4 separate regions of the Homo sapiens genome follow, and all the other regions are linked to region 2. The links come from fine-mapping of genetic effects on gene expression. A gene starts in region 2. Each other region holds a variant in brackets. All regions are shown on one strand. Distances are between the middles of the regions. Region 1 overlaps ATP2B2 (ATPase plasma membrane Ca2+ transporting 2). Region 2 holds the start of ATG7 (autophagy related 7). Region 3 overlaps HRH1 (histamine receptor H1). Region 4 overlaps ATG7 (autophagy related 7).

Region 1 (8,242 bases), 830 kb after region 2:
TGACTAGTGTCACAGTGGGGAAGAGGCCAACTTGGTATCATGGTGCAAATCCTGGCACCACTTCTTATCCAGCTGTGGGACGTTGGACCAGTTATCTAACTGTGCCTCAGTTTCTTCATCTGTAACATGAGGTCATAACAGTGCCTCTTTCATAGGGTCGCTGTAAGCATTAAAGTAATATGTGCAAAGCACTTAGTGCCTGGCACATGGTAGGTGTTATTTCAGCATTACTGTTATTATTCTCTGCTGGGAACTCTCTGTGTGGCTTCAAGGGAGACGTTGGGTTTTAATTAGTGAAGAAGAGAAAGGCAGCTTGTTTGGTAGATCAATGGGCTTGAGCAATGCATGTGAGTCTTGGTTAAAAAAAATGTCAGCCCCATATTTGATTTGCAATGCTTATTATACACCTCCCCCCATCACCACTACCATGGGGTAAAAAAAATCCTTCAAAAGCACAGTTTAATGTGAAGTTCCAATGAATCATGTGTGGATGCTTTCCAGAATGCTGCCTGCATATCCTTCTGAATCATCAATAAAATAAACCTACATGTTAATCAATGCATGCTATCGATGGTCATAGGCTGGGGTGGTAGAGTCTGCTGGGCAAATAATTCTGCAGGCCACGGGGTGGCAGGGAGAGCACGGGACAGATAGATAAAGATCCTGCCCGGCAGCTGACTGAAGGGCTTCCCGGTGATTCCAGCAAGACTAGGGAGTCTTCATGTCCCGTGAGCGATGCTGCTTGGCTCACTAGGTGCTTCCCGTAATCAGGCACCCAGAGAGGTGGTAGAAGAGATGGGTTGTAAGGGCAGCATTTCCACGGGGCCTCACTTTAGGCAGAGCATTAGGCAGACCCACCATGCAGAGGCCTGAGTCCCAAAACTACCCTGGCTCTCATTTACTGTGAGCGAACTAAGAGCCAGGCCTTCCCAACACATTGTTCCCTGGGATCCTCACAGCAGCCCCTTGAGTAGGACACAAAGGCTTGGAGAGGAAGGGGGCCCTGATTCTTACTATGAAGGCATTATCATTTTGCAGAATCAATATGCACTAATCACTAAGTGCCTACTATGTGCCCAGAAAAGGGAAGGAATATGGAGACCATTGACTTTGAGTCCCAGCTTCACCTTCTAAGTCCTTAAGTCATCCCCTCACTCTGAACCTGTTTCCCCACCTGTAAATGATATGATAATAACACCCACCTCCTAGAACTGATGGAACATCTCCATTGCTTCCCCCTGCTTCTAATATGCCAAGCAGTGATGGAGGTGGACACACATTTATTTATTGGACAAATATATGTTATGCACCTAGTATGTGCAGGCTTGGGCCACATGTACTCTTCTGGGAAGAGACCCAGATCTCTCCCATATGCTTTCTCAGGGGCAGTGTCTGTGTGATGTGGCTACACACAGGACAGGTGGGCAGATGGGGACAGGGCCGGCCTTCAAGGATATCCCTTCTTGGTTCAAGGGGGCAGAGGATGTCAGACAGGAAATGTCGGGTGCAGTGGCTCGCACCAGTAATCCCAGCACTTTGGGAGGCCAAGGTAGGTGGATCACTTGAGGTCAGGAGTTCGAGACCAGCCTGGCCAACATGGTGGAACCCCATCTCTACTAAAAATACAAAAATGAGCTGGGTGTGATGGCGCACGCCTGTAATCCCAGCTACTTGGGAGGCTGAGACACAAGAATCACTTGAACCCGGGAGGCAGAGGTTGCAGTGAGCCGAGATCAGCCTGGGTGACAGAGTGAGACTCTGTCTCAAAAAAAACAAAAAGACAGGAAACAACTCCAGGGGCACAGAGGCAGGCAGGAATCAATAGGAAAGATGGCAGCCAAGGGCAGGAAGCCAAGGCCTCAGTGTAGCCAGGGGGAGGAAGGAGGAACCCCTTCCAGATCCCCTTACTCTCCAAAGCTCCCTATAGATTCCCAGGAAAGGGAGGTGCAAAGGTGGATTGTAAACTGCTCCCGCCTTAAGACTGTCCCAGTCTAGCTGTGCTACTAGTTACTAGCCACGATGCTAGTTATAGCTGTGATACTAGAGAATAATTAACATGCATTGAACACTAACAGCAGCCAGGCTCCCTGCTGAGGCTTCACGGCATTTTCTCCTATAATCTTCACATCACCCCTGTGAAACAGGAACTGTCATCATCCCAGCTTACAGATGAGGAAATTGAGGCTCAGAGCACCACGTCTAACAAGTGACCTGGCCAGGATTGGTGCCTACACTGTCTGGCTCCCAAATGTGCACACATGACCTCCTCGGTCTGCTGCTTTCTATTGACAAAAATAACTACTGCAAGAGGAAATGTTCTAAAGGTTGATGAAGGAGGAGTGATCCCCACCTGATTGGGGACAAAATCAGGAGTAGCTTCCTCTGAGTGAGGCCTGAAAGGACAGGGCAGAATTGAGTGTGCAAAGATGGGGAGGGAAGCACACGCAGTTAATGGGGCGTGAGCAAAGGCCCTGTGATGACAACCAGGATGTGTACAGGGAACAGTGAGGAATTCGCTGTGCCTGGAGCCTAGAACAGATCGCAAAGCACAGAGGACTCCAGCCCATGAACTACAGATTCATTTTTGTAGACTCTGGTTTTTAGTCTGTTTGTTCATGCTGTGTATGTAGACTGTCAGGTTGGATAATAGTGTTTATGTCCCTGTGAGTGTGAAATGGGCCTCCAGCTCCATAAGATGAGGCCCTGAGTACAGCCTTCTCCAGGTGCATGGAGAGCCAGTGAATTCACTGAATGCAGGGAAACCGAAGGTTGGGGAAATGGTTCTCACACTGGGTTCCCCAGTGCCTTGAGGTTCCACAGAAGTGCCCTACAGGACAAGGGGATGCTGAATGGATGGGACTCTGGGGCTTCTCACCCACCACCATGAACCAGAGACAGAGACACTCCTTTTTTTTTTTTTTTTTTTTTTTTTTTTTTAGATAGAGTCTCACTCTGTTGCCCAGGCTGGAGTGCGGTGGCACGATCACAGGTCACTGCAGCCTCGACCTCCTGGGCTCAGTGATCCTCCCACCTCAGCTTCCCAAGTAGCTGGGACTACAGGCATGTGCCACCATGCCCAGGTAATTTTTTTTTTTGTAGAAACAGGGTTTCAAAAATTAGCCGGGTGTGGTGGTACACGCTTGTAATCCCAGCTATTCAGGAGGCTAGGCACAAGAATCACTTGAACCCGGGAGGCAAAGATTGCAGTGAACCAAGCTGGTCTTGAACTCCTGGCCTTAAGCGAACCTCCTGCCTCAGCCTTCCAAAGTGCTGGGATTACAGGCATGAGCCACTGTGCCCGGCCTGATACTCCTTTTTAAATGCTTTGAAGACTTTGGTTTTTTAACAAAGTGTTGAAAAAAAGAAAAAAAAATTGAAAACCTCTGATACTGGAGAAAAATGCTAAACTAGAGTATCCAAAAGCCTGGGTTGGGGCACAGATCACATAAGTTCTTAATGCATCATTTGTTAAATCTGTGAAATGGAGCAGACACTGTCTGGCTTCCAGGGGCCACACTGACTGTGGATTAAATGAGAGAACACACAATGTGCCTGGCCCAGGGGTCTTAGGCGAAGTTGGTCTTTGCGGGGGCCCCAAGGGGATGCATGTGACTGTGCAGGAAAAGGGTGCTCAGTCCACCCATGCTGGGCAGGGGCGGAGACCAGCCTGACTTTGGCCCTTATCGACTGAGACCCTCTCCAAGCTCCCTCCACCCTGTTCCATGCCTCAGCCTCCCCATCTGGAAAATAAAGAAGGTTGGTCTAGTAGTCTCTGAGGCTTGTCCAGGCTCAGACATTCTACTACTGTGAAACTGTCTGCCTTGATGCCCCCATTCTGTAGACATCAGATGGGTCAAAGGGTGGCTGACTCACAGCCAGACTCCAGGCCTCTCTTCACTTGAAAATTCGTGACCTCAAAACCTTGGCCCATCAGTGCCCAGGCCAGGGCAGTGCCCTTGGCCCTTGGCCCTTTGCCCCAGGCCTTGGCCCAGCAGTCCTTTTCTACCAAGCAGCTTCAGGGCCCTCCCACGCTGGCTCCCAAAGGTCGGGTTTAGCGGGGGACCAGAATTTGGGCATCCCTGGCAACAGTTCTCTAGCTCCCAGAAGCCCAGGGGCCTAGACCCCAGTTTCCAATTACTTCTCCTCCCTGGGTCTCAGTTTCCTCATCTGTCACACGGGCCTAAGGGGTGAGAAATGTTGCTGTATAACTGCAGGCGGGCCGTCTCGAATGCTAGTAGGACCTGAGTCATCCACCCAGCCTGGGTCCCACAAACGCCTCGAGTTCAGCTGGAGAGATCCTCTGCCTCCAGGCCTGCCTGTCATCCGAGAGGCCCAGACAGGGCGGGTAAGTTATTTATACAGGCCCTCCTCACCCCACAACGATTATCTTACTCCTCCTGGTGCAATCCAGGCCCCTGCTGTGGTTTCAGACCCAGAGTTATTTATAGTCAGTGGAAATTAGTGCCTCAGCCGATGGCTCCCTAGGACCCACCTGCCCTAGCCTCCACCCCAAAGGGAGAGAGCAGGCAGCAGGCAAAGAAGATGTCAGAGGTCGGAGGAGAGTGTCACATGCAGGTACAGTGTGATGAGAGTATCTGACACTGGATTGGCAGGCAGTTGGACAGAGCAGTCGCCAGGAAGTAGGACGAAGGAGAAACGGCCCACACTGAGGAGGGCAGGCTGTTGGGTGAGCCCTTGGGAAAGCTCTGCTGGAAAGAACAGCAGAATGGAGTGTTCCCTGGGGCCTCCCCCTTCAGCACACCCCAGCTCAGTGGGGTCAGAGCAGCTGGAATAGGAGCCTGAGAGACTCATGGACCCATGAGACAACAGGTCTGGAAGGGCCTTCAAGGACCATCTGATTCAGTAATCCCAGGGTGCACATGGGGAGACTGAGACCCAGGAGAGAAGGGACTTGCCCAGCACACAGTGGGTA[T/C]GGGCCAGGGGGCAGAGACACCCGCCACCCCCCTCCCTGCTCTCCCCTGCAACCTCCTGGCTCCCTGCAGAGCCTCAGCTCAGCCACGCCATCCAAAGACCACAGACTGAGTGGCTTAAATGACAGAAATTCATTCTCTCACAGTTCTGGAGGCTTGTAGATGGCCATCTTCTCCCAGTGTCTGTTCACATTATCTTCCCACTATGCATATCTGTCTCTCTGCCCAAATTTCCTCTTTGTATACGGGTGTCAATCATAGCATGGATTAGGCCCACCCTAATGGCCTCATCTTAATTTAGTATCTGCAGTGTCCCTATCTCTACAATGACTCTATCTCCAAATACCACCACAATTTTAAGGTACTGAGGGTTAGGACTTCAACATATGGATTTGGGGGAGCATGATTCAGCCCAGAACACTCTGACATGGGAAAACCACTTCAGTCCTCAGAACTGAAGCTTTCGCTTCTGTAAAGTGGGGACATGAACAGGACAGCAAGCGGACTGTAATGAGGGACACGCTCACTGCTGTACTGATGTGTCTGTCCCCCAAGCCCGATGCTCAGTGGGCGTTAAGAAGTGGGCGTTAGGAAGTGGCAGTGTGGTGAGAGAGTTAAGAGGCAGACATCCTGGGTCTGAACCCCAGCTTTGCCACCCACTAGCTATGTTGTGCTGAGGAAATGACATCACCTCTCAGAATCTGTTTACTCAGTCTGTGAAATCATTCTTATTCCTGGGCTGTGAGAAGTAATAAATGAGCTGATGTGAGTCAACACACTTAGCACTGCCCAGGAAACCCCTGGAAGTGGAGACCATCATCATTATTATTATTACTATTACTATTATCATTATCATCATCATCATTATATAGGTTAAGAAGCTGAGGCCCAGAGAGGGAGGCATCTTGCGCAGCCTCACACAGCCATCTGGCACAAAACTAAATGAGAACTCAGGTCTCCCAATCCACAGTCCCAGATTTTTCAACCACGTCTCTATGTGACACTAAAGGGGAAAAGAAGACAAGTAATTCCTAAGTGCCCCACATTAGGAAAGTAACTAAGTACCTTTTAGCTTCTCCACGTGCCTTTGGGACATTATGGAAAAAGATTGTTACAGAGAATGCAAAGCCACGTGGATGAGGCTCAAGAAATAATGTGATGTTGAAAAAGTGGGTTTAGCATCGTATGTCCTGACAATGGCAACACCTCCACGAAGACAGATGCAAGGGGAAAGGGGCTGGCAGGAAACATCTAGAATGTACCCCATGTTGTGGCTGAAGGGTGAGACTGGGGTGATGGTTCTTTCCTCAGCCTGTTTCTGCCTGTGTGCCGATGTCGCTCCACTAAGGCACGTCGGTCGTAAACAACAGAAGCTGACTGGGCAGCATAGTGGAGGCAAGAGGGCAGCTTAGGAGTGGGCTCTCCAAGTTGGAGCAAAGGCTGGAAAACCCAGCTCAATTTTCCAGAAGGAAACGGGGACATGCAGGGATCAGTGGCACGACTCACTAAGTAAATGTCCCTTTGGGGAACTGCAGGTTGGGAAAAATCCACTACAAAAGCTTCTTTTGGTCCTTGTATAGCTCAGGATTCCAAAGCAGCCTGTGCTGGTGAATGTTAACCCCAGCTCTCTAGTTGCGAGGGAATCCTCTTTTGCAGTGGGTGCTGATTTCCTTGGTGTAAATACCACCACGTTACCCACGTGACATCATTAAACACAGAGTTGGGACGAGAGGCGCAGCCGCACACCATTATACGGTATTTCTACCATGCAGATACAATAGACTGTCTACTAGAGAGAATAGATAATAGTGAAATGTAGTAAAATAATTAGGAGGTGATAAGTTTGGGGTATTTGTTGCCTTTTAAAATATAATTTATATAATTGTAGGTTTATATAATTGATTTCTAATGATGGCTATAATTAACAACCAGCTCACAAAATACCTGAAATTTTAGCCATCAGCTCTCACAAGCAAGTGTGAGCTGGCACCAGCAAATCACTGATTCTACGTCCCAGGAGACAGCATCCCTGGGAGGTGATTGGCCTAGCTTGATCACATGCCCACGCTTAGGCCAGGAAGGTGGGGACACTTTGACTGATCGTCACCAAGACTCTTCCCAGTTGGGGAGACCAAATCCCCTAAAGGAAAGCAGAATGCCACTGGACAGCCAAAACTCAACACAGGCCTTTGCTTCTCTTCTTGATAATTTCTTTAAGCTGTAGTTTTTTCTTTTATAATATCTTTTTTATTTCTTTTTTAAATTCATAGTGCTTGAAGTCCCAGAGTCTTTTAAAAAGGCTCCAGGGCTCAATTCTGAGAACAGTGAACTGAAGGACCCAGCCAGGAGAGGTACGGAGGCTCAGAGCAGCCATACCCACCTCTACCTCCTCACTTCCCAACCCCTCCCACCTTCTCCAGAGTGTAAGTAAATGAGCTAAACCTCCTGCCCACCTGTCACCCTGCCTGAAAGTCCACCTTTACAAGTCCCCCAAAAGAACATAGGCAGCCCAAGTTGAGAAGTATCTTAGGGCAGAGTCTTCACAAATACCCGTAAGGCAGATGAGGGTGAATGGGAGCCTCAGAGGTCTGGAGTGGCCCAGATACTGGAGAAGTGCTCTTGAAGGCTTAGGCCTCACCTCAAAATGGGGACAGGGTGGTCATCCTAAGCCTAGTGAATTCATGATTGACTGCGAGGCCTGTGGACCCTCCAGGAAGATGTAGGAGCTCAGGTGGCCAGGGTGAAGAACCATACCACCCCCTCAATGAGAACCTCAGACCCCCCTGCTTCCTCCTTATTTGGGACCACCTGGTGGCCAGCAGAAGACCAGGGGATCTGATTTAGGATGGGAGCCGGAGGGAAAGTGCTGCCCCATGCTCCGGTAATGGTCCGGTTGGGGGGTGACCACCTTGTGTCAACAGCTCAGGCCCTGACGTGGGAGATGCCACTCCTACCCCCATTTTGCATGTGAGGAAACCGAGGCACAGAGGGGTTGACGGACTCGCCCACGTCGCACAGCTGTGAAAGGCAGGCCTGGATGAGACCAGACCTTGTGCTCTTAACCATTTGTCAAAGGGAATGAAGGGTCATTCCTAGAACTCTCTTCCCCCATAGAGGGCACAGGATGCTGGCTCAGAAGCCTGAAAGTTTTCAGTTGCTCCAAACCACACTGGGGCTCAGGCCCAAATATGAGGAAGAGGGGCCAGGGGAGGGGCCAGGAAGATACCTGATCTGCCAATGGGGCAACTGAGAATTTGACCCCAATTTCCAGGCCTCACTCATCTGCCTCCTTCTGGCCAGTGACATCCTCA
Region 2 (8,242 bases):
GGGGAGTGGTGGGACGAGAGCAGGATTTTAGCAATGACTTAGGGAAGTACAGGAAGCAACTCTAGATAACTCTTCCAAGAAAGGTGGCTGGGTAAAAGAGGTGTGACAGGGTGCAGCATAGGTTAATTGGAGGGTTTTTGTTTTTTCCAAAATGAGAGTAAACAGAGAATATTTAAATGAGAAGGGTTGATGAAACAGAAAAGAAAATGAACAAATGATGGAACCCAGTCCTTGAGGCAAAGGAGGCGATGGGATCTCAAGCACAAATAGAGGACTTAGTCTTAAAACACCATTTCTTTCACAGAATTAGAATAAAAGGCAAAAGGATAGGGTCAGCTAAAGATCAGTTGGTAAAGGATAGAAGAGGAAGCTGCGATGCCTTAATTAATGGCTGCAACTTAGTGGAGCAAAAGTCAAGGTAGGAGGTTGAGGAGAGGAATGAATATGAGGAAGACATAAAGGGAAATGGACAAGAGAGCTGCCTGAGGATATGGGGAGGGCTGAGCCACGCTGAGGGCCTATTTGGTGGCACACTAGTGTAATAGTGTCAAAAGCACAATGTGTCTATAATGGAGCTGGCAGGGCTTTAGGTTACCACAAGAAAAGTGCAGTCTTGCTCTGCATGGTTAGAGTCCTCAAGGAAAGAGGATTTCCTTTCTGTACCACACACTCAAAGAGAGGCTGACAAACCAGAGCAAGTTCAAGGATGGTAACTGGGATGAAGGTGTGAGGAAATCCCAAAAGTGATCATTCTGAAGCCGGTCTGAGATGGAGTGAATAGGCTATTCCTCAGTCTGCCAAGATCATGGTAATACCTACTGACTACCAATTAACAGAGCAGCACCTCCAGTATTTATTGTCCCTTGATTATACAATCAGGCCTTAATCGCACTGGAGAAGGGTGGGGAGATCAGGAGATAGAAAGGGGAGAGGAAGCGGTGGCTCACGCCTGTAATCTCAGCACTTTGAGAGGCTGAGGCAGGCGGATCACGAGGTCAGGAGATGGAGACCATCCTGGCTAGCACAGTGAAACCCCATCTCTACTAAAAAAAAAAAAAAAAAAAAAAAATTAGCCGGGCATGGTGGTGGGCACCTGTAGTCCCAGTTCCTGGGGAGGCTGAGGCAGGAGTATGGAGTGAACCCAGGAGGCAGAGCTTGCAGTGAGCCGAGATCGTGCCACTGCACTCCAGCCTGGGCGACAGAGTGAGACTCCATCTCAAAAAAAAAGAAAAAAAAAAAAAGAGGAGAGGAAGACATTAGCGAACGTCATTTCCATGGGTAGAAGTGGACGACAGAGGCAAACTGAATTCCAAATAAAATCAGAGGTCAGGGTTAATCTATTAGAGACACTAGTCAAAGAATTTTGTTACTGCTCAATTCCACACAGCAAATTCATTTCTGCCCTCCCGTCATCAGGATCCTGATTCTTGTCCCCTTCTTCTGTTTCATCCTATCAGTTACCAAGTCCAGCAAATTCCACCTCCTTAATCTCTCAACTCCTCCCACTCCTCTCCATCTCCACTGTCACTGCCTTCATCCAGATCTTCATCCTGTCACCTGGATCACTGCAACTATACCCAACTGGTCCCCTGCTTGTCTTTTTCTGTCCAGTGTAATCACCACATTGCTGCCTGGGTAATTTAAAACAGATGAGAGGATGTCGCATCTGTTTTAAAATCTTCAGTGTCCTGCTCTCCACCCCCGCCCCCACATTTTAGAGTCCAAACTTCTGGGCCTGGCAATATTAATGACTACTGTTTATTGAGTATTTATCATCTACCAGTGTCAAGTGAGTAACATATCACCTCGTACAGTTTTTATTTCCCCTTCTTAGAGATGAGGAAACTGAAGCTTAGAAAGAAGTGACTTGCCCAGGGTCACAAAACTAGTTCAGTGGCAATGGGAATATTGGTACGCAGCTATCTTGGATCCCAAAGTCTATGTGCGGGTAACATGCTATTGTCCACAGGGCCCTTCACGATGTGGCTAGTGCTTACCTTTCCAGTCACCTCTCATCCTACACCTCCACACTGGCACTCCAGTGAACCACAAGCAGGCCATGCATTCTCACCTCTAGCCCTTTGCTCATCTCACTTCGAACCACTCTTCACCTGTCAGATCTCGTTCGTCCTTCAGGTCTTGGCTAAAGCAGCACCTCCTCACTGAAACCTTCTCTGATGAGTCAGCCTGACTTATGCGTACCCTAAGTCCTCCTCTACCAAACCTCCGCAATAGCTTCATGCCATACCGTTGCTATCTCCTTGGCTTAAAAAAAAAGTAAACTCTTTGAGGACAGGGATGTGTATCTTACTCATTTTTGTATTCCCAGCTTGCAGCGCAGTGCCAGACACACAGCTGAAGCTCAATAAATGTTTATTCTCTATAATGAGATGCTGGCTGGGAACGAAAAACGGAACCTGTGGTTGAGTAATGGAAAGTCCAGTACTCAGCTCTTAAAGGATTTCAAAATCATGTCACATGAGGGCAGGAAGGAGTTGGCCAAGATAAATGGAAGAGGAAGGGGAGATGTTCGAAGCAGCAGAAGCAAAGGGCTATAGGTGACACACACCTGCAAGCAGCTTAACAAGACTGGAGCAGCGTTGGGGGATGGGAAAGCAGTTTAGCAACATGAGCCATTCCAAGACTGGACTTTTCTTTATTCAAGTGTTAGGTCACTTCCTCAGGGAAGCCATCCCTGACTAGCTAGCTTTTATGCTTCCCCCCAATTACTGTCCATCCCATGACCCTGTACGTTTCAGAATCGGAAACACCTACCAACCCTTACTGACAATGCCGCCACCGCCACCACCACCACTATTATTAGAAGGTGCCATGAAACAGGGTTCTTTTTCTTCTTATTTTACTGATAGATCACCAGTGCCCACAATAATGCCAGGCACATAACAGGCAAATATTTGTTTTATTCATTCATCCAACAAATATTTATTGAGCATATATAATATGCTAGGCATTGCTCTATATGCTGGGGATATAACAAAACATGACAAAATTTGCTGTCACTGTTAAGTTTACTATGAGCAAATACATTAAATATGCTTAGCCTAGAGAAGAAAAGGTGAGAAGAGGAAGACAAACTAGCAGCTTTCAATGATGTATAGGGCAATTAAATGCAGGGGTGATTCCAAGAGCCTGAAGGAGGAACAGTGAGCTAAGATTACCGAGTAGCTGCTTTCAGCTCAACCTAAGAGTCAGAACTGGGGGAGGACCAAACAGGAGCAACCAGAAGTAGAAAGCTTTCTGTCACTGAAGAAATCTGGCCAGTGGGCAGAGGTGTCAGAGAAAAAAATCTAAGTAGTCAATGAAAAAGGGAGTCTGGGATCCAGAGGTCCCAAACTGACAGCCACAGATATGACTGGTTACAGTTGAACAGGGTTTTGTAAAAACTGAGTTGCCAATGTTTTTAAACGCCAGAATTACTTGCCAATTTTTAAAAAATGGCATCAGTCGCCAGTGTTTAAAAATCAGGAAACTGCACGCACGTGCACACACACACGGTTTGGCTTGTACTTCTCCAACATCATGTACGTTAGTACTGTACTTATAAAATTAGAAGTTTGACTCTATTTCTGACAAATGTTCTAACACCTATATTTACCTTACCGGATTGATTCTTATTGTGCATTAGTTTCTAACCCTGTAACCAAGGAATCGAGAATCTTCTTTCTCAGAAAGTAAACTTATTTAACCTCCTCACTTAAACAAATGGCGGATTATCATTCCCATTTTGCAGATGGAAAAGCAGCTTAGATGGGGAAGGAACGTGCCAGAGACAGCAAATCCAGACACAGCCAGGCTGGGAATCCAAATGTCCCATCTCCCGTGTTCCAACACTGAAGATTCTGAGCACTGCCTACCAAGAGGACAGGAGGGGCTGACTTAGGAAATCAGCACGAGCTTCCAAGTCAGAAGACCCCGGACTGAACCAGTCTGAGGGGACGCGGCTACAGACGAAGGGCGCCAGCCGGAATCAGTGAGTCCCTGGAGGAGGAAGGACCACCCAGAAACTGGCAGAGGAGGATCCTGAGACTTGCTGTGACCCTCGCCCTCCCTGGCGAGCTCGCCCCTTGACTCCAGGCCTCCAAAACCGGCCCAGCAAGACCCCACTACACCCTCGCCCGCCGCGGCTCACTTACCGCCGCTCAACTTCCGGCAACCACAGCTCTCTCTGAGGCGCGCGCCCCGATGACGCAACGCGGTCCTGCCCGCGCTTGCCACTGGGAAGCGGCGCGCGTGCGCAAAGGAGCAGAGGCATGCCGGGGAAATGCGCCCCTAGCACCGAGCTAAGTGGGAGGAACTTGAGTCGTGAGGAGGGCGGGGCATCAGGGGGCGGTGACGCCCCCGGGGGAAGCGATGGAGAGCGTCTCCCTTACCAGATGTCGGAATGTCTACATTCCCTTCAGGCTTTTAAGAAAGTGCCCACGTTCTCTCTTTTGATTTCAGAGGATGACAGGAATGATCACCATGGTCATTCTCCAGGAGAGGCGGCATCAAACGCAGCACAGGGGCCATCAGGGTGGCAGGTGTGGAGAGCCAGGAGATGAGAATTTTAGTAGGAAAAGGCCAGTGAACGTCGACAGTGACCAACCTGCCTTTTCTAAACCAGCCATCATTCTCACAGCTCCTCACTGTCAGTGAGATAAAGTTATTCCCTCTCAATACTTGGTTAGATACTCTGCGCGTGCAAAGCACTGGACAGGTGTTGAAGATACAGCAGTGATTATGACAAGTTTCTCTGTCTGGCCTGTAAGGCCTTTCACAAATTAACTCTGATATACCACTCTAGACTCATAACAACAAGAGCGATGACTGCTATTAATTAACTAGCCACCATGTTTTCAGGGTTTTACATCTCTAATCCTCACAAGAGTCCTGAAACATATCCCCAAGTTATATATGAAAGAACAGAATCTAAGAAAAGTTAGGTGGCTTGCTGAAAGTTAAAGGGCTTTTGGGCCAGGAACGTAATCTGAAGTTTGTTTGATTCTGGCAAATAAGAAAACAAATCCAGACTAATAAGGATACTTATTAGAAAGGATTACTGCAGGCCCGGCGCGGTGGCTCACGCCTGTAATCACAGCACTTTGGGAGGCCGAGGCGGGCGGATCACGAGGTCAGGAGATCGAGACCATCCCGGCTAAAACGGTGAAACCCCGTCTCTACTAAAAATACAAAAAAATTAGCCGGGCGTGGTGGCGGGCGCCTGTAGTCCCAGCTACTTGGGAGGCTGAGGCAGGAGAATGGCGTGAACCCGGGAGGCGGAGCTTGCAGTGAGCCGAGATCCCACCACTGCACTCCAGCCTGGGCGACAGAGCGAGACTCCGTCTCAAAAAAAAAAAAAAAGAAAGGATTACTGCAAGAAGTGAGAGAGGTGGGAGAGAAGGAACCGTGCAATAGCAGAGGGAGACTATTGCAATAGTGAGATCACTCTGACCAAAACATCCGCAGATGTTTCAATGGTTAGGGAAAAAGAGGGTTCCCCCACCCCCCACCCTCCCCAAAGGCAGGTAAACAAGGCTGGAAACAACCGAATATGGGAAGTGGGATGAAGGGGTGGCTTGATCAGATAGTAGATTAGAGAATGTTTTATCTTGAGGCCAACCTATTCTCAGTAGGGGTTGTGTGTGTCAGTCTCTGAGCCCAAGCTAAGCCATCATATCCCCAGTGACCTGCACGTATACATCCAGATGGCTTGCAGCAACTGAAGATCCGCAGAAGTGAAAATAGCCTTAACTGATGACATTCCACCATTGTGATTTGTTTCTGCCCCACCCTAACTGATCAATGTACTTTGTAATCTCCCCCACCCTTAAGAAGGTTCTTTTATAGTCTCCCCCACCCTTAAGAAGTTTCTTTGTAATTCTCACCACCCTTGAGAATGTACTTTGTGAGATCCACCCCCTACCCCCAAAACATTGCTTTTAACTCCACCGCCTATCCCAAAACCTATAAGAACCAATGATAATCCCACCACCCTTTGCTGACTCTCTTTTTGGACTCAGCCCACCTGCACCCAGGTGAAATAAACAGCCTTGTTGCTCACACAAAGCCTGTTTGGTAGTCTCTTCACACGGACACATGAGACAGTATGCTAGTTCAAGCTGAGAGTAGGTTAAAGTAAGGAGCCTGGGGAAAGGAAAGAAGCTTAACCCAAGTTTGGTTAATAAGCATTTTTTCCAACTGGTCAATGGAGACAAGCAGCTCTGTAATCATTTATGAGGCAAAGAATGGGAATTCAGAAGGACTGTGTTTGACCTTGCCACAGTAAACAAGGGAGGCAACCAGGAGTCATTTAAGTGACATGAGAATGGGTATTTCTTTGTAGTGAACATTTTCTGAAGCACAAAAAGGTTAAGAAAGATTTCTCTTTTTTGCTTTATCTTTTTTTTTTTTTTTTTTTGAGACGGGGTCTCCCTCTGTTACCCAGGATAGAGTACAGTGGAGTGATCATAGCTCACTGCAGACTCAACCTCCTGAGCTCCAGGGATCCTCCCACCTCAGCCTCCTGAGTAGCTGGGACTACAGGTGCATGCCATCATGCCGGGCTAATTTTCTCATTTTTTGTAGAGACTGGGTCTTGCTATGTTGCCAGGGCTGGTCTTGAACTACTGGACTCAAGTGATCCTCCCACCTTCACCTCACAAAGTGCTGGGAATACAAGTGTGAGCCACCTTGCCCAGCAAGGATTTCTTTTTCCTTTTTTTTTTTTTTTTTGAGACGGAGTCTCGCTCTGTCACCCAGGCTGGAGTGCAGTGGCACAATCTTGGCTCACTGCAAGCTCCGCCTCCCAGGTCCATGACATTCTCCTGCCTCAGCCTCCCAAGTAGCTGGGACTATAGGCGCCCACCACCTCGCCCGGCTAATTTTTTGTATTTTTAGTAGAGACAGGGTTTCACCATGTTAGCCAGGATGGACTCGATCTCCTGACCTCATGATCCACCCGCCTCAGCCTCCCAAAGTGCTGAGATTACAGGTGTGAGCCACCACGCCCAGCCTTTTTTTTTTATTTATTTATTTTTTTGAGATGGAGTTTCACTCTTGTTGCCCAAGCTGGAGTGCAATGGCGCAATCTTGGCTCACTGCAACCTCCACCGCCCGGGTTCAAGCGATTCTTCTGCCTCAGCCTCCCAAGTAGCTGGGATTACAGGTGCATGCCACCACACCCGGCTAATTTTTTGTATTTTTAGTAGAAACGGAGTTTTACCATGTTAGCCCGCCTGATCTCAAACTCCTGACCTCAGGTGATCTGCTCACCTCGGCTTCCCAAAGCGCTGCGATTACAGGCGTGAGCCACTGCACCTGGCCAAGAAGGATTTCTTAACCTTTACTGTCAGAGGCATTTGAACCAGAATGACTCCATCTTGAATAGGGGCTGAGTAAAGTAAGGCTGAGACCTATTGGGCTGCATTCCCAGGAGGTTGGGCATTCTTACTCACAGGATAAAACTGGAGATCAGGGTATGACAGAGGTCACAAAGACCTTGCTGATAAAGGTTGTGCTAAAGAAACGTGCCAAAACCCACCAAAACCAAAATGGTGACGAGAGTGACCTCTGGTCATCCTCATTGCTTATTATACGCTAATTATAATGCATTAGCATGCTAAAAGACACTCCCACCATTGCCATGACCTTTTACAGATGCCAAGGCAATGTCAGAAAGTTGCCTTATGCAGTCTGAAAAGGGGAGGAACCCTCAGTCCCAGGAATTGCCCACCCCTTTCCCAGAAAACTCATGAATAATCCACCCCTTGTTTAGCATATAATCAAGAAGTAACTATTAGCATAATCAATTGAGCAGCCCATGCCACCACACACTGCCTATGGAGTAGCCATTCTTTTACTCCCTTTTTTTCTTTTTTCTTTTTTTTTTTTTTTGAGATGGAGTCTCACTCTGTTGCCCAGGCTGGAATGCAATGGCGCATCTCTGCTCACTGCAACCTCTGCCTCCTGGTTTCAAGCAATTCTCCTGCCTCAGCCTTCCTAGAATATGGTGAGCAATTCTCCTGCCTCAGCCTCCCTAGAAGCTGGGATTACAAGAACACACCACCATGCCTGGCTAATTTTTGTATTTTTTTTTTAATACAAATGGGGTTTCTTTCTTTTTTTTTTTTTTTTCCAAGACAGAGTCTTGCTCTGTCACTGGGCTGGAGTGCAGTGGCGTGATCTCGGCTCACTGCAACCTCCGCCTCTTGGGTTCAAGCGATTCCCCTGCCTCAGCCTCCCG
Region 3 (8,242 bases), 41 kb after region 2:
AAGGACTGGGAAAGAGGCTGCCTAGCAAAGTAGAAAACTTTTAGACAACACCTGCTCTATTTCAGCCAAACACCATAGAAAAACACTGTGCCCCGCTCCTGTCCTAGCCAGATGAGGTGAAGTGGGGAGGGCAGCCAAGACTTCCACCCTTGTCAAGCTGTAATGAAGTGACTCAACTCCCCTTGCTGGGGTGGCGTCCCCGCCATTCCTAGCAGGGAGCCGGGACTTGCATCCTGTCAGGTGGTGACAAGCCCTGCACCCACCCCCATGGTGTCAGTAGGGGTGCATGGGGAGCAGTGAGGAGGCACTCTCATCCCTCCCAGCTGGGGACTTATCTGCAGAGGCCTAGTGGGGAGATGGAGCTCCCACATCTGCTCAGCAACAGTGAGGAAGCCACGCCCTTCAAGTGTCAAGAGAAGCGAAGTGGGGAGCCAGGACGTCTACCTCCACCTGGAAGTAATGAGGCAGCATACTCTCCCCGTGTGTCCTCCGGCTTCCTCTGCTACAGCAGTGTCAGTCAAAAGCAGATAAATCAGGAGATTTAAATATGATCCTAGGTCTTATAATACCTAAAATTTCCATATTTCAATTGAAAATCATTTTTCACATCAAAAAATGAGAAGGGATTTCTAATAGCATTTTTTTTTTTTTGAGATGGAGTCTCACTCTGTCACCCAGGCTGGAGTGCAGTGGTGTGATCTCGGCTCACTGCAATCTCTGCCTCCTGGGTTCAAGCTATTCTCCTGCCTCAGCCTCCCATGTAGCTGGGACTACAGACACATGCCACCACGCCCAGCTAATTTTTTGCATTTTTAGTAGAGATGGGGTTTCACTGTGTTAGCCAGGATGGTCTCGATCTCCTGACCTCGTGATCCGCCCACCTCAGCCTCCCAAAGTGCTGGGATTACAGGCGTGAGCCACCGTACCCGGCCAAAACATTTAAAGTAATCATCATAAAAATGCTTCAACATGCAAATGTGAACACAATTGAGACACATGAAAAAAATAAGTCTCAGCAAAGAAACAGAAAATATAAAGAAGCAGCAATGGAAATTTAGAATGGAAATAATAATTGAAATAAGAACCCAGAGGTGCCCGCCCTGCCTGAGGAGAGGGAGGTCATGGCGTGAAGCTACAGCTGCTGCCACCGCCACTTCTGCAAGGTCTCAGGGCAGGGCTGCAGCCATGTCCTACTGCCGGCAGGAAGGGAAGGATCGAATCATATTTATAACCAAAGAAGACCATGAAACTCCAAGCAATGCAGAATTGGTGGCTGATGACCCCAACGATCCATACGAGGAGCATGGATTGATACTACCAATGAAGACATTAACTGGAACCGTCCATGCCTTGGGGGAATGGCCAGCGGCCCCTGTGGGGAACAGTTCAAGTCAGCCTTTTCCTGCTTCCACTATAGCACGGAGGAGATCAAGGGGTCAGACTGTGTAGACCGGTTCCGGGCCATGCAGGAATGCCTGCAGAAATACCCAGACCTCTATCCCCAAGAGGATGAGGATGAGGAAGAGGAAAGAGAGAAGAAGCCAGCAGAACAAGCAGAAGAAACAGCTCCCACTGAGGCCACTGCAACCAAAGAAGAGGTGGGGTCAAGTTAATGAAGGCCACAAGGCACTGGGCTCCAGTCCTTTTGGAGTGGACCTTTTGCAAAAGACCTTGTTGTCACCTTCCAAGAAAGTGTCTTTCCCTCTGTTGTCCTGTGCACTGTAATATACAAAATAACTTATTTTGATGATCAGGGGTCTTGACCTCTTGACACATACACTGAAAAAAAATGGGAGTTGTATGTATGTGTGTCCTACCCAAACCTGTGGCCGCCACTTTTGAATTCTCTTCTCAGATTGCCCTGAATTTTGCCACTTTTAAATCATGTGCTGAATAAGCTCAGCAACTAAAAACCATTACCCAGGAAGGTTTCTTGTGAGTGAGCTGATTTATTCTGATTCATTATATTCCTTTTAGTAGATATTATGCCCCTTGGGGAAATAATACAAGTAATAGAAACAAAAACATCTTCTCCTAAAAATGCTGGGGTGGGGCCTCTACTAGCAGAGGCCAGATGGTCAGATACGATTTCTGCAAACCCATCCTGACCTCGAGTATGTGAAGGGGTACTGTACTTCATTCCCGATACATTTTGGTTTCCATGTTGGCATTGAGCTCCTGGTTTTCTGTGTTTGGACGATGAAGATTTGGACCCTCCCATTCACAGTTCCTTTCTAAGTGAAGGGAGAGGCTGGCTTGGCTGTTCCTTGTTATTCTGAAAGCCCTGGTTTGGGGCCCATGTTCACACAGGCTCTCAGTCTGGTCAGGTGCAATGTTCTTGAGAGGTGGGGACCTAATTATTACCAGAGTAGCAGCAAGAGAGGAAACGTGAACTAAGTATTCAATTAAAAGGAAACATGATTTCTACCTGAAAAACAACAACAACAACAAAAAAGAACCCAATTGATGGACTCAAAAGCAAGAGGGTAGGAACAGAGGAAAGAATCAGTGAACTGGAAGATAAAACAATAGAAATTCCCAAATCTGAACATCAGAGAGAAAAGAGATAATAAACAAACAAACAAACAGAACTCCAGGGTCCTGTGGGACTATAACAAAAGATCTAACATTCATATAATCATAGTCCCAGAAGGAGATGAGAAAGAGGGTGGCAATGATAATGTGCTTTGAGAAATAATGGCTGAAAATGTCCCAAATTTGGCAAGAGACCTAAATCTATAGAATCAAGAAGCTGTTAACCAAACAGGATAAGCCCCCCAAATATACATCAAAGCACATAATAATTAAACTCTTGAAAATGAAAGACAAAAAAACTTGAAAGTATCAGAGAAAAACACCTTACCATAATGAGAATGATAGCAGATTTCCCACAGAAAACATAGAGACAAGAAGAAAATGGCATTATATTTTTCAGATGCTGAAAGAAAAGAGCTGTCAGCCCAGACTCTTATACTCAGTGAAAATATCTATAAGGAATAAAGGGAAATCAACACATTCTCAGACGAACTTGTACAGGACTGTGTGCTGAAAACTAAAACATGCTGATGAAATAAATCAAAGATGTAAATAAATGGAGAGTGTTTATGGATCGGAAGTCTCAACAGAGTAAATATGTCAATTCTTCCCAAATTAACGTACAGATTTAATACAATTCTTATCAAAATATCAGCAAGATGTCTTACGGATATAGACAAGACTCTTCTAAAATGTATAGGGAAAGGTGGAGAAACTAGAATAACTCAAATAATTTTGAGAAAAAGAGAATAAAATGGGAGAAATCGACCTACCCAATTTCAAAACTACTATATATTAATAGCTACAGTAATCAAGACTTTGTGGTATTGGCAAAGGAATAGACACATAAATCAATAGAATAGAACAGAGAGGCAAGAAATAGAA[ATAGAAC/C]CACACAAATATTCTCAGGTGATTTTTGACAAAGGTGCAAAATTAATTTAATGGAGGAGAGAAAGCATTTTCAACAAATGGTGCTGGCACAATTGGACGTCATAGGCAAAAAATGAACAACCTAAACCATATGTCTTTTAAAAAAATTAACTCAGGCTGGGCACCGTGGCTCATGCCTGTAATCCCAGCACTTTGGGAGGCCGAGGCAAGTGGATCATGAGGTCAAGAGATTGAGACCATCCTGGCCAACATGGTGAAACCCTGTCTCTACTAAAAATACAAAAATTAGCTGGGCACGGTGGCACGCACCTGTATTCCCAGCTACTTGGAAGGCTGAGGCAGAATCGCTTGAACCCGGGAGGCGGTGTTGCAGTGAGCCAAGATTGCACCATTGCACTCCAGCCTGGTGACAGAGCGAGACTCAGTCTAAAAAAAAAAAAAAAAATTAACTCAAAATGCTCCACAGACCATTAAGTGTAAAATGTAAACTACAAAACTTGTAGAAAAACACATTAGAGGAAATCTTCAGGATCCACAGCTAAGCAAAACGTTATTAGACTTGTGACTAAAACATGATCCATAAAAAGAAAAAACAATGAATTGGACCCCATCAAAAGGAAAATTTTCGTTCTGTGAAAGACCCTGTTAAGAGGATAAAAAGACAAGGAGAAAATATTTGCCAGCCACATATCTAAGAAAGGACTACTATTCAGAATATATAAAGAACTCTCAAAACTCAACAGTAAAAAGCAGACAATCCAATGAGAAAATGGGCAAATGATATGAGGAAACATTTCATCAAACAGATGATACAGATGGCACATCCGCATGTGAAAAGATGTTCAATATTACTAGCCATCAGAGAAGTGCAAGTCAAAACCACAACGAGATATCACTGCACAGCCATCAGAATGGCTAAAATAAAAGACAGTGGCAACACCAAATGCTGATGAAGACTGCAGAGAAACTGTGTCACTCATACATTTCTGATGGGAATGTAAAATGATACAACCATTCTGGAAGAGTATGGCAGTTTCTTAAAATACTAAACATGTAACTACCATAAACTTGAGTAATTGCACTCGTGGACATTTATCTCAAAGAAACTAAAACTTATTTGCCCAGAAAAAAAAACTGAACATGAATGCTTATAGCAGTTTTATTCATAATAGCTCAATGCTGGAAACAACCAGCTACCCTTTGATGGGTGAATGAGCAACCAACCAACTGTGGAATACTACACAGTAGTAAAAAGAAATGCACCAGTCCTATTCCCATCAACTTGGATGAGTCTCCAGAGAATTATGTGAAGTGAAAGAAGTCAGTCCCAAAAGGTTACTAACTGTGTGACATTTATGTAACATTCCTGAAATGACACCATTACAGAAATGGAGAACAGATTAGTGGTTGCCGGGTTTAGGGATGGGGGAGGTGAGAAGGAAAGGGGATGTGGCTATAGAAAGGCAACATTGGTGACGGAACTCTTCTGTACTCGACTGTCTTTATGTCCATATGTTGGTTGTGATATTTTACTACAGTTTTGTAATATGCTACCACTGGAGGAAATTGAGTAAAGTGTATGCAGGATTCCTCTATATTATTTCCTACAACTGAGTGTTCCTAAAAGGCTTAATGTAAAAAAAAACTCATATTGATACCTTGGCCGCACTCCCAGATTCCCAGCCACTATGGTTTAAAGGTCCCCAGGTGATCCAGTGTGCAGCCAGGATTAAACAAATCAGTGGTCTAGGCCAGTGCTTCCTAAACCTTCATATGCAAATAAGTTTTCTGAGAGTCTCATTAAAATGGCTCAGGAGGTCTGAGGTAGGGCCAGAGATTCTGCATCTCTAACAAGCTCCCAGGTGATGCTCATGCTGTTGGCCCACGAACCTCACTGTGTAGCAAGGGCTTTTACACTGTGGTTACATCCAGGTTGGGTTCATAAGAATTATCAGAGGAACTGTGAAATATATCGTACACTGGGATCCAGCTTAGTCGATTCAGTAGGATCCAGTAGGTCTGGACTGGTGCCGATGACTCTGTTTTTTAATAGCTCCCCTGGTGAATGTGGTGCCCAGCCAGGTTTGGGATCCAGCAGCAAGCTGCCTCTTGCTCCTTGATTCTTCTGTGTATGAGCTCATCTTGGCACCCAAGGCCAGTAATGGAATTTAAAGTTCTTGTCTTCACGCCCAGTACTTTCACTACCTTAGACCTGGAGTCAGGCCCTGGGACTTGGTCTCTCTCATCTTCCCCTGAACCTACCCAGTGGACTTCAGTCAGTGTCACCTCCCTAGAACATGCTCTGGTGTCTCCTGTCCGTCACTGGCCTTCTAGAGGCCAGCCACCTACTCCTTTTGTTCATCCTTTGGAGGCTGACTTGGTCTAAGCTCAAGTTTGCTCTCACCTGGGATACTGCAACAGCCCCCTATCTGGCCAGCCTGCTTCCAATCTCACCCCCTCTAGTCCCCACCCATGTCAACTGCAAGCAATCTTTCTAAATCCACATTTTTCTCCTTCAGTTACTAACTTATTCCCATTATAATTCTTGCTGATCTATGTCTTTCCTATACCACCATTTACTTTATATATGTATTTAAATGGATCCACTTTTTTGCCTAAGTTTATTTCACTACCACGTATGAAAAACAAGTTATCATTTTTTTTGTTATCTACAGAACTTTCCATAGGCATAAACAAGATGACAATAAAACAATGTGATTTAATTCTAGCCAGATATTGTGAGGAAGGCTTTGCTTTGTTAAAGAGAAACCTTAGCAAGAGTAAGATGGGTTAAAAACCCATCTTATATGGGAGGTTGAAAACCTCCCAGCACCAAATTGAGACTCTCTTGGAGGTAATCAGGACTGAAATATACAAGTTAAGACTTGAAAATCTGTGAGAGTCAATTTTAATTAATGGTACATCTCTGTACCATTTACAGTCACTTCAGGTAACACCCAAGATGTGGTAAACACCACTGTCTTAAATCTCGTCATATATTGTTTTGCTCCTAAATGCCTTGAAGGAAAAGTTCAAACTCCTTAGGCTGTTGGTATGACATTTCCTCCATATTTTGACCCACAGCACTCCAGCAAAAATGAACTTGCTGTCCCCAAACACCCCAGGTTCTTTCAGTTTTTGGGGGCTCTACACACAGTATTCTCTTCTCCAGGAAGAGGATGTGTCTTGCAGATTAGCATTTCATTTATGTTTACTATTGTCTCCTTATGGGCCTATTTCAGAGCCCATCTGAAACAAAGTAGGTGAGAAGAATGAAAAGGACAAAGGAAAGGTGGAAAGGTTGATAAAGAAGATGGGAAGAAAAAGGAAGGGAGGGAGGCAGAGGGAAGGAAAATGTCAATGAACTTCTATTTATTCTACGACGTCCATCTTAACTGTTCCTTCTTTTTTGAAGCTTTCCTGTATCCCTTAGCCATATCTAAGCATTTCTTCTTCTGGGTTCCCACAGTATTGTTTCCATATCTCTATTAAGGCATTTACCACTATATTCTTTTTTTTTTTTTTTTTGACATACTCTCATTCTGTCACCCAGGATGGAGTGCAATGACAAGATCTCGTCTCACTGCAAACTTCACCTCCTGGGTTCAAGCGATTCTCCTGTCGCAGCCTCCCGAGTAGCTGGGACAACAGGCACGCACCACCACGCCTGGCTAATTTTTGTATTTTTTTAATAGAGATGGGGTTTTGCCATGTTGGCCGGGCTGGTCTCAAACTCCTCAGGTGATCCACCCATCTCGGCCTCCCAAAGTATTGGAATTACAGGCATGAGCCACTGTGCTCGGCCCACTATATTCTACAGAATGAATTCAGGTGTCCTTCACGTAGACTTTGATCCCTACAAGGGCAGGAGCACTGTGATATTCACTTATATTTCCAGCACCTAGCCCAGTGGCTTTCAAACTTGGCTGCACATTGGAATCATGAACAGAGCTTTAAAAAAAATACTGATGCTGAGGACTCACCACTCCTGGATTTGATTCTGGTGTAATTGGTCTGGGGTATCTCTGGGTTTCAGGATTAAAAAAAAAAATTTTGTTAGAGACAGGTTCTCGTTCTGTTGCCCAGGCTGGAGTGCAGCGGCATGAGCACAGCTCACTGTGACCTTCAACTCCTGCCCTCAAGCAATTCTGCCTTGGCCTCCTAAAGCACTAGGATTACAGGCACGAGCCACTGTGCCTGGCCTGGATTTTTAAAACTCTCCAGATGGTTCCAATGCAACCAATATTGTGAATCACTTTCCTAACTAAAGCTGAATTATGGTAGGAGGAGTTCAGTAAGTGATGAATGAATAAGTAGATGAATCCTGCCTTTAACGCACCACAGTTCTGACCCAACATGACCACATTCAGAGTTTCATGTTATGCTAATTCATTAATATATTCAGGAACTATTAATTAAACAATAATGTGGTACCAGGTATTATGCTAGGCCAAGCCACTAGAGATGGAAATGTGAATAAGACTCCCAATTCTCCCCTCGTTTTTGATATGCCTTAGGGATGGCTGGGGCCTGTCCTAGTTCATCCAAGAACTTTCTGTCCTGCTGATTAATTGGCCAGCTCCAACAGCAATCATTTCCCTAGTAACTGATAGCAAATCTTACTTCTGGCTGCTTCCTCAGGCAAGTGCTATCTAAGGACAGACTCTATTCACTCTCAGAGAGAGGAAGTTCCTAGGGGGTGTGGGCAAGTCAAGAAACCACAAAGAAAGTGGTCTTGTCTAGATCTCTTCAAGCACTCCAGAAGTGAAAGGAAGATGCTCAGGTGCAGACCAGAGTCCTGTGCAGCTCAGACAGG
Region 4 (8,242 bases), 180 kb before region 2:
GCCTCCCAAGTAGCTGGGATTACAGGCATGTGCCACCATGCCCAGCTAGTTTTTGTATTTTTAGTACAGACAGGGTTTCACTGTGTTGGCCAGGCTGGTCTTGAATGCCTGACCTCAGGGTAATCTGCCTGCCTCAGCCTCTCAAAGTACTGGGATTACAGATGTGAGGCACCACACCTGGCTCCAGAACATTCTCATTATCCCAAAAAGAAGCCCAGTACCCATTAGTAGTCTCTCCCTATTTCCCTCCCACAACCCCCCAACCCCCCAAGTCCCTGGTGACCATGAATCTGTTTTTATGTTTCTATGGATTGTCTATTCTGAACACTTCACAAAAATAGAATCTCATTTAAGAGATATGTATATGTGTGTGTGTGTGTGTCTGTGTGTGTGTGTGTCTGTGTGTGTGTGTGTATGTAAAGGCGTATATATATATAGAGAGAGAGATAGAGAGAGACAGGGCAGCCTGGGGTTTTTTTAATTTGTTTTTTTTTTTTTTGAGACTATAAACATATATATACACGTAATATTTTCTATGGTTGCCAATTCTTATGCTAGATGTTAGCATTACAAATTCGTATAAAATCTGTGTCCGCCTTCATAGTCCAACAACAAACGTTTGCTGAGTGTAGAACTCCCAGGAGTTCTCTCATGGACACAACAGCCACACTCACCCTCACATTAGCTGGCAGAGGCCCTTTATACCAGTGATACGCTTGGGCCAAGGGCCCCTGGGTTGAAAATCATTAGGTAGACACCATCCAGTGCCCTGTCTCATGTGCTGAACAGGGCTAGTAATGCCGACTTTCACTTTGGGAGGCCAAGTCGGGTGGATCACTTGAGGCCAGGAGGTCAGGACCAGCTAGCCAACATGGTAAAACCCTGTCTCTACTAAAAATACAAAAATTAGCTGGGCATGGTGGCATATGCCTATAGTGCCAGCTACTCAGGAGGCTGAGGCATGAGAATCACTTGTACCCAGGAGGCCGAGGTTTCAGTGAGCCAAGATCATGCCACTACACTCCAGCCTGGGTGACAGAGTGATATAGATCTCAAAAAAAAAAAAAAAAAAGTGTCAACCTTTACTTCTATTTTATCAAGTTCTTGTTCCAGCCTGTCCTTTTCAAAAGATACCCTCCTTGGTAAAGATTCCAAAGTTTTGGGTTTTCTTTAAATGTATGCATCCAATGTCTTTTTCATTTCATTAAGGTCAAATAAATATTTGTCCTGGGTTTCCAATAAGGTATTTGAGATTTTCCTGTGCCATAATGACTGTATTTGGTACAGGCAAGGCAATATACTAAGGTCTCTCTACAGATCTTGAAAATCAGATCAGCCTTGGAGGATGAAATTAGTAACAACTAATACACCCTGGAGGACACCAGCCCTTTGGAAGGCATTCATTGGAAGAGACTAGAAAAGCAGTTGAGGTTGGGAGTTTCTCATTTCAGGCAAAGTGACAAGGGAGTGGTATCAGAAAATACGATCTTAACTAAGAAAGCTAGAACCTATATCACTCTAGAAGACTGTTCACAAACGGTAGCAGGGCCCATGTGCAGCTTGGAAAGAGGAAGCTTAATGTGCAAAAATTTAATATCCCTGCAACTCTCTGGAAATTGGCAAGATGGTCCCTCAGAAGAGCAGATCTGTGTGGTGAGTGAGATATCACAGCTCCATGAGGTGAACACCAAACCTTCCAATCATCAGTTGTCTCCCATGTACTTATGGAGAATGGTAGACAAAACTCACTGAACTGCTTCATTTGTACATTGATCTCTTGTGACCTTGCTTTGTGGGAGTTAGTCCCAGAGAATCTTTATAAACTGGCAAGATTTTCTGACCTAAAGAGGTAGGATCTGTGGAAAATGATGACCTACCAAAGTACAAATCTAGAGAACTGAGGTTTGGAGAACATGAAAACCATGGTCAAACACGTGAAGGCCTGCCACTGGGAAGAGGAATTCAACTAGCAATACACAGGCCCAACTAATATGTAAGAAAGACACTACAAAGTAGTAGTTAAGAACACAGGCTCTGGAGCCAAACGACTTGGCTCTAACACTTACTGGCTCCATGACCTTGAACACTTAGGTTCCATGTGCCTTAATTTCTCCATCTGTTAAATAAAGTGATTGTGAAGATTTAATGAGATAATCCAAATAAATGCTTAGTACAATGTATGGAACACAGCAAGTTCTCAAGAGACTAGCCATTACATCATTATTATCCAAAGAAGAAACAGACCACCCTGTAAGATTTGGAAGGGAGCTCCCCCAGGACTCCTCCCACCCCCTGCCAGGGGTACAGAGAGACTAGTTTATTGAGGGCCAAACACAAAACTTGATGCTGTTGAATTTACTTCAACTCCAGGGCTTCCCTGCCCCTTAAACTCTTATAGACAACTCAAAATGAAAACGTGTTCTCAGCAGTTAATGCGTTTTCCATCTACAACCGCTTTTTTGTCCTATCATTCAACTAATATATATTTTTCCAAGTACTATGGCAAAGCGCCTGTTAGTGTTTGAGGGCACAAAGGGGGAAAGGTGTGGCCCTTGTCCTCCAGAAGCTTTGCATCTAACTGGGACAACGGGATTAGAAAACCACATAGTTCTCTGGTGATCCAAATACACACGTTAGATTTATGCCAAGCGTTCATCTGATGCTTGATTTAGCGAGCCATAACCCAAGGGAAGGGTCGGGAAAATCATTCTCTCTAGAATCACTCCATTGTATGGAACATGAGAAGCTTCTTTGTATACTAACTAAAACCAATCATACTCTCTCTCACCCTCTCAGTCTCAATCTCAATCTCTCTCTCCTTTTCATTCCCTTAAAAGTACAGCCACCAAGGGTAGTGAAGACTCTGGGGCCTTACAGGCCCCAAATCTCAGGGTTTTTTGTTGTTGTTGGTTTAAGAGATGGGGTCTTGTTCCATCACCCAGGCTGGAGTGCAGTGGCAATCATAGCTCACTGCAGCCTCAAACTTCTGGACTCAAGCAATCCTCCCACCCCAGCCTCCTGAATAGCTGGGACTACAGGCATGAGCCATCATGCCCAGCTAATAGGCTCATATTTTGGCCCACCTAGCTTATTAGTTAGCAGATGGTGAAGGCAGAGACAGTGGCCTCTGCATTACAAGCTCACGCTGCATTCCTTCACAGGATGTTTGAAGGCTTGTCTGTTATTTATTTGTAATTACTGCTTTAGCACTCATCTCCCTCCCATTTGTAAGTTCAATGAAGGGAAGGATGATGTGCTTTGTTCATCATGTCTTACAGTTAACCCTCAATACAGACTTTGTGTGACATTTTTACCCTAATTCCAGGTTTCTTTTAGGTTCCACAGAGTCTGGTTGCTACAGTTTAAGTATATTACTCTGGTGTAAAATGTCAGGCAGGGGAGAGAGACCCCCAGGGCCTGCCTTGGATTCTGTGGACAAACATCCAGGGACAGAAAACACTAGGAGGCTCCATTCATATTGGAACAGCGACCCCCTTACCCACCCCACTGCCCCGTTTACTGATGCCTCTGTTGCCTCAAGAAATTCATAGCACCTTCGGGCAGGGGAACAACAGTGTGGTGTTTATTGAAATCTACATCTGGCAGCAATTTGTTCAACAACAACCAGCTTTGCCTCCATCATTCTCTTCAGTCAAATAATCCACAGGGGCCCATGATACCCCACAACTGCTCATTTGTGCAAGGCCTGTATTGTGTTGGTTTATGTTCCTGATTACAGATTTGGTTTTATCAACAAGTTTCAGCACGGCAAGTAAGTTTTTAGACTATGGAGGAGACTAAAGGCACATGTCCTGAAGCAGAGATGCTGTCACTGAGCCTGGCCATCTGGGCTGAGAGATGAAGCCTCATGCTGACCTCAGGGGCTCCAGCTCCTGAGTCCACCCTGGGTGAGCAGAAGCAGCCAGAGAGAGCACTCCCCTTCCCCGCCCCAAGAGGTGGCCTCAGGAGAGCATGGAGGAGCCTGGAAGGAGGAAAAGCCTAGAATGAGGCTTCTGTGTAGCAAGGAGAAAGGAGGAGGCACTGTGCTCCAATCTCAGAGAAAGTTCTTTGTTTGGAGGTGGTGGTAAGGAAGACTGTGCAGCTA[A/G]TTTTTTCAAAGCCTCAGTGAATAAAGACTTCTTTTCTGGTATCTGTGGTTAGGTGAGAAGATGGGGGTAAATCCAGAAAGCAGAGTGAGTCAAGCTTGGGGACAAATCTGGGGACTGGAATTTCATGACTTTCACTCAACTCCTTAATAATGAATTGCTGATAGAAAAGCAGCATTGTTTGGAAGGGACAGGAACAGACACAGGAATAGAACTAAGAGGAGACTGAACTTACAATGGACTTCTATCATATATGCCCAACACCCATCCATCTGCATCAGTTTGTTGAGGAGGACCATCCCCCATCACTCCAACCGTGTAGTTCTGAGGGAGGCTGCCAATCAGTATGACCTGCCCCTGGCCCAGGCTGGCCAATCATGGCAGCCCTTCCCTTTCTACTGCCAGCTGTCCAGAGATGGCATGTGACCCAGGCCTGGCCAATCACAGTCCTTATCTGGGATTTTCTTTTTGGAGCCACTAGGAAAGATTTCTTAATGTAAGAATGAGATTTTGGAACTGCCCGAGTCCATGTTTCTTGCTATATGGGGAAGAAAAGAACTTGTTGGTAGTGAGAGAGAATAAAGCCAACAAAGAACAGAGCTGATGAACACTAAGATGGTCTTGACACTAAATGCCCCCATCTAGAGTCCTTGAAGCCCAGATTTCATGACCTGGTTTCATTAAGCAATAAATTACTTTTTTTTTTTTTTTCCCTGAGACGGAGTCTTGCACTGTTGCCCGGGCTGGAGTGCAATGGTGTGATCTCGGCTCACTGCAACCTCCACCTCCCAGGTTCAAGTGATTCTCCTGTTGCAGCCTCCTGAGTAGTTGGGATTACAGATGCCTGCCACCACACCAGGCTAATTTTTTCTATATTTTTAGTAGAGATGGGGTTTCACCATGTTGGCCAGGCTGGTCTCGAATTCCTGACCTCATGATCCACCCGCCTCAGCCTCCCAAAGTGCTGGGATTACAGGCGTAAGCCACTGTGTCCAGCCAATAAATTACTCTTTTATGCTAAAAAGAGTTCAAGCTTTTGGTTTCTATCACTTGTAACCAGGGTATGGATGGCTACAAAAGGTTTTTCACTGAAAATGACTGCTATGATGATCAAGTGAGTAAATGCAAGTAAATGCCCTCTGAAAAAGACAAGGTGCCACCCAAGTGTCAGATACTGATCACATGTGATATGGTTACATGTGACAGACGGACACTAAAAAACACCACTGACTTGATGTCAGGCAGTAAATTTCAGAAAACTTTTTATTACAGAGACCTTTGAAGATACACAGAGGTAGATGGACAACACGATGTCTCTCATACCTCCCCAGCCCCAATAACCATCACTCATGGCCCAGTCCAGGAGACCAGTGATTTCAACCACCTCCCCCTGGAGCATAGCTGGTTCACCTTGACTGTGCCTTGGTTCCAGGCCCAAGTAGCCCCTTGACTGGATTTAGAGGTTGAGTCCCTGGCAGTGGGGTAGCATCTTACAGGAAGAAGTCAAAAGTCAGGAATTCATGAATTCAGTCTGGTCAGGCTTGCAGTCTGCTCAAGTACCATGATGTATCATGTGCCTCATTCTTTTAAAGGCTCATTTATGACATTTTAACACTGTCATTGGATGTGTGTTTTGTCACAGTAGGTATCAATGTAAGAAAATCTTCTTAGTGCTAAAAGTAAACCAGATACAATAAAGTATTTTGAATGATGACGCCAAGTTTCCCCTACGGACTAAATTAAGGAGTCTCCTCCTTTATATAACGCATTTACAAAAGTAGATTATAGTCTTACAAATAAAGAGTCTCTGGCATACTTAATTCAGGGTGCAGACAAGGAAGATGATTGAAACCATGAAATCTAGGTGTTAAAGACTTATTCTATCGTTATCACAGAATGTTGAAATGGATATAGTAACCTTTAATCCAATTTAATCAGGCTTTCTGGTGCAGATGTGGTCTAAACATTTTTTTAAAGCATCCTAGATAATTCTGATGGGCAGCCAAGGTTCAGAACTGCTGCTCTAACCCAGCCAATACTTTTATTTAGCAAATGAGGATGCTGAGGGCCAGAGGTGTGGGACTCTGACCAAGTCAAACATCTGGGATTAGAACAAAGGTCGCTGGGCTCCATCATACTTTTCAAGTGAATAACTAGGTCATCCTACTGTGCTTTCTTTTCACAGGGGCTACACAAGCATAACATATGAAAATTTTTGGAGTTGAAGTAGAGAAACTATCAGAAAAGAAGAATCCAAATAAGTAATATACATAAGACGTTTAACATCATCAGTGATCAGGAAAATGCAAAGTAAAAGCCTAATATGATACTGTTATACAGATTGGCAAAAATTTTAAAATGTGACAGTACCAAGATTCTGGCAAGGATAAGGGACCACAGAAACTACCATATACTACTGGTATTCATGTAAGTCAGTGAACTGCTTTGGAAAACAGTCATGATTTAATAAAATTGAAGATGCATATTTTCTTTTTTTGAAACTTGTAAGTTCAGGGGTATATGTGCAGGCTTATTATATAGGTAAACCCATGACATGGGGACTTGTCGTACAGATTATTTCATCACCCAGGTATTAGGCCTGGTGCCCATTAGTTATTTTTCCTGATCCTCTTCCTCCTCCCACCCTCCATCCTCCACCAGACCCTAGTGTGTGTTGTTCCCATGTGTCCATGTGTTCTCATGATTCAGCTCCCACTTATAAGTGATAACATATGGTATTAGGTTTTCTGCTCCTCGATGAGTTTGTAAGGATAAAGGCCTCCAGCTCCATCCATGATCTTCTTTTTTATGGCTGCATAGTATTCCATGGTGTATATGTACTACATTTTCTTTATCCAGTCTACCACTGATGGGCATTTAAGTTGATTCTATGTCTTCGCTATTGTGAATAGTGCTGCAGTGAACATCTGTGTGCACGTGTCTTTATGGCAGAATGATTTATATTCCTTTGGGTATATACCCAGTAATGGGATTGCTGGGTCAAATGGTATTTCTGTTTATAGGTCTTTGAAGAATCTCCACACTGCTTTCTACAACGATTTAACTAATTTACACTTCCACCAATAGTGTATAAGCGTTCCTTTTTCACCACAACCTCGCCAGCATCTATTGTTTGACTTTTTCATAATAGCCGTTCTGACTGGTGTGAGATGTATTTCACTGTGGTTTTGATTTGTATTTCTCTAATGACTAGTGATGATGAGCTTTTTAACATATGCTTTTTCGCCACATGTATGTCTTCTTTTAGAAGTGTGTGTTTATGTCCTTTGCCCACTTTTTAATGGGGTTTTTTCCTTGTAAATTTGTCTAAATTCCTTGTAGTGCTGGATATTAGACCTTTGTCAGATGCATAGTTTGAGAAAATTTTCTCCCATTCTGTAGATTATCTATTTACTGATAGTTTCTTTTGCTGTGCAGAAGCTCTTTAGTTTAATTAGATCCCATTTGTCAATTTTTGCTTTTGTTGCAATTGTTTTTGGCATCATCATGAAATTTTTGCCTGTTCCTATGTCCAGAAGTAAGGGCCAGGATGTCTGGATGTCTTCCAGGGTTTTAATAGTTTTGGGTTTTACATTTAAGTCCATGGTCCAGAAGAGGCATATTTTCTACGACCCAACAATTCTAGTATGAGATAAATAACTTACAGTATGCCTTCACAAAGAGGGTGATATCACCCCCAAAGGAGCAAAAATTGGTCTTTGGCAGGCAAAAGAAATCTTAGATATGACAGTGTTTAGTGGCTCTCCAAAGCTCAGCCCTATCTGACAAACCCTATTCTTTAGTATTAATTAAATTCTAAACTGTTGGCATTAAATTATCCCCCTAGGAGGAGTGATAATGAAAAGAAGGTTGAGAAACACCCAGAGAAATGCTGCACATGAACCCCAGGAGATATATACCAGAATGCTCCAAACAGCACACTTCATTATAATCTGAGACTAGAAATGCTACCGTAGAGGAGAAATTTCAATATATCCAATTATGAAACACTACATAGCAACGAAAATGAACTTTAGCCGCACAGCAAATGGGTAACCTTTACAATATTGGGCAAAACAAGACACGAAAGAATCTACATATTATAGCATAATTCTGTTTGAAAAATTCAAAGTCAGGCA

What was found. PIP is the estimated chance that this variant, and not a neighbour inherited with it, causes the effect. A credible set is the group of variants that fine-mapping cannot tell apart.
Region 1: its variant is the best candidate, but not a certain one, in a credible set for the expression of ATG7 in cerebral cortex (GTEx, PIP 0.70).
Region 3: its variant is the best candidate, but not a certain one, in a credible set for the expression of ATG7 in whole blood (TOPMed, PIP 0.52).
Region 4: its variant is the best candidate, but not a certain one, in a credible set for the expression of ATG7 in whole blood (INTERVAL, PIP 0.74).

The regions. Positions count from the first base shown.
Region 1 is chr3:10,434,796-10,443,037 of GRCh38, reverse strand. All of the region lies in intron 2 of ATP2B2 (ATPase plasma membrane Ca2+ transporting 2), which reads left to right. Among named protein-coding and RNA genes, the nearest start is that of MIR885, 44 kb to the right of the region's middle. The variant T/C (reference allele first, on the strand shown) is at 4,934.
Region 2 is chr3:11,268,343-11,276,584 of GRCh38, reverse strand. It overlaps ATG7 (autophagy related 7), which reads right to left and starts at 4,188. Exons shown (of 21, transcript NM_001349232.2): 1 at 4,155-4,188. RefSeq lists enhancers at 3,403-3,992, 4,141-4,270, 3,993-4,584, 4,541-4,590.
Region 3 is chr3:11,227,624-11,235,865 of GRCh38, reverse strand. The region is part of intron 1 of HRH1 (histamine receptor H1); the gene reads right to left. It also overlaps the pseudogene CHCHD4P4. Among named protein-coding and RNA genes, the nearest start is that of ATG7, 41 kb to the left of the region's middle. The variant ATAGAAC/C (reference allele first, on the strand shown) is at 3,421.
Region 4 is chr3:11,444,043-11,452,284 of GRCh38, reverse strand. The region is part of intron 20 of ATG7 (autophagy related 7); the gene reads right to left. Among named protein-coding and RNA genes, the nearest start is that of ATG7, 180 kb to the right of the region's middle. The variant A/G (reference allele first, on the strand shown) is at 4,106.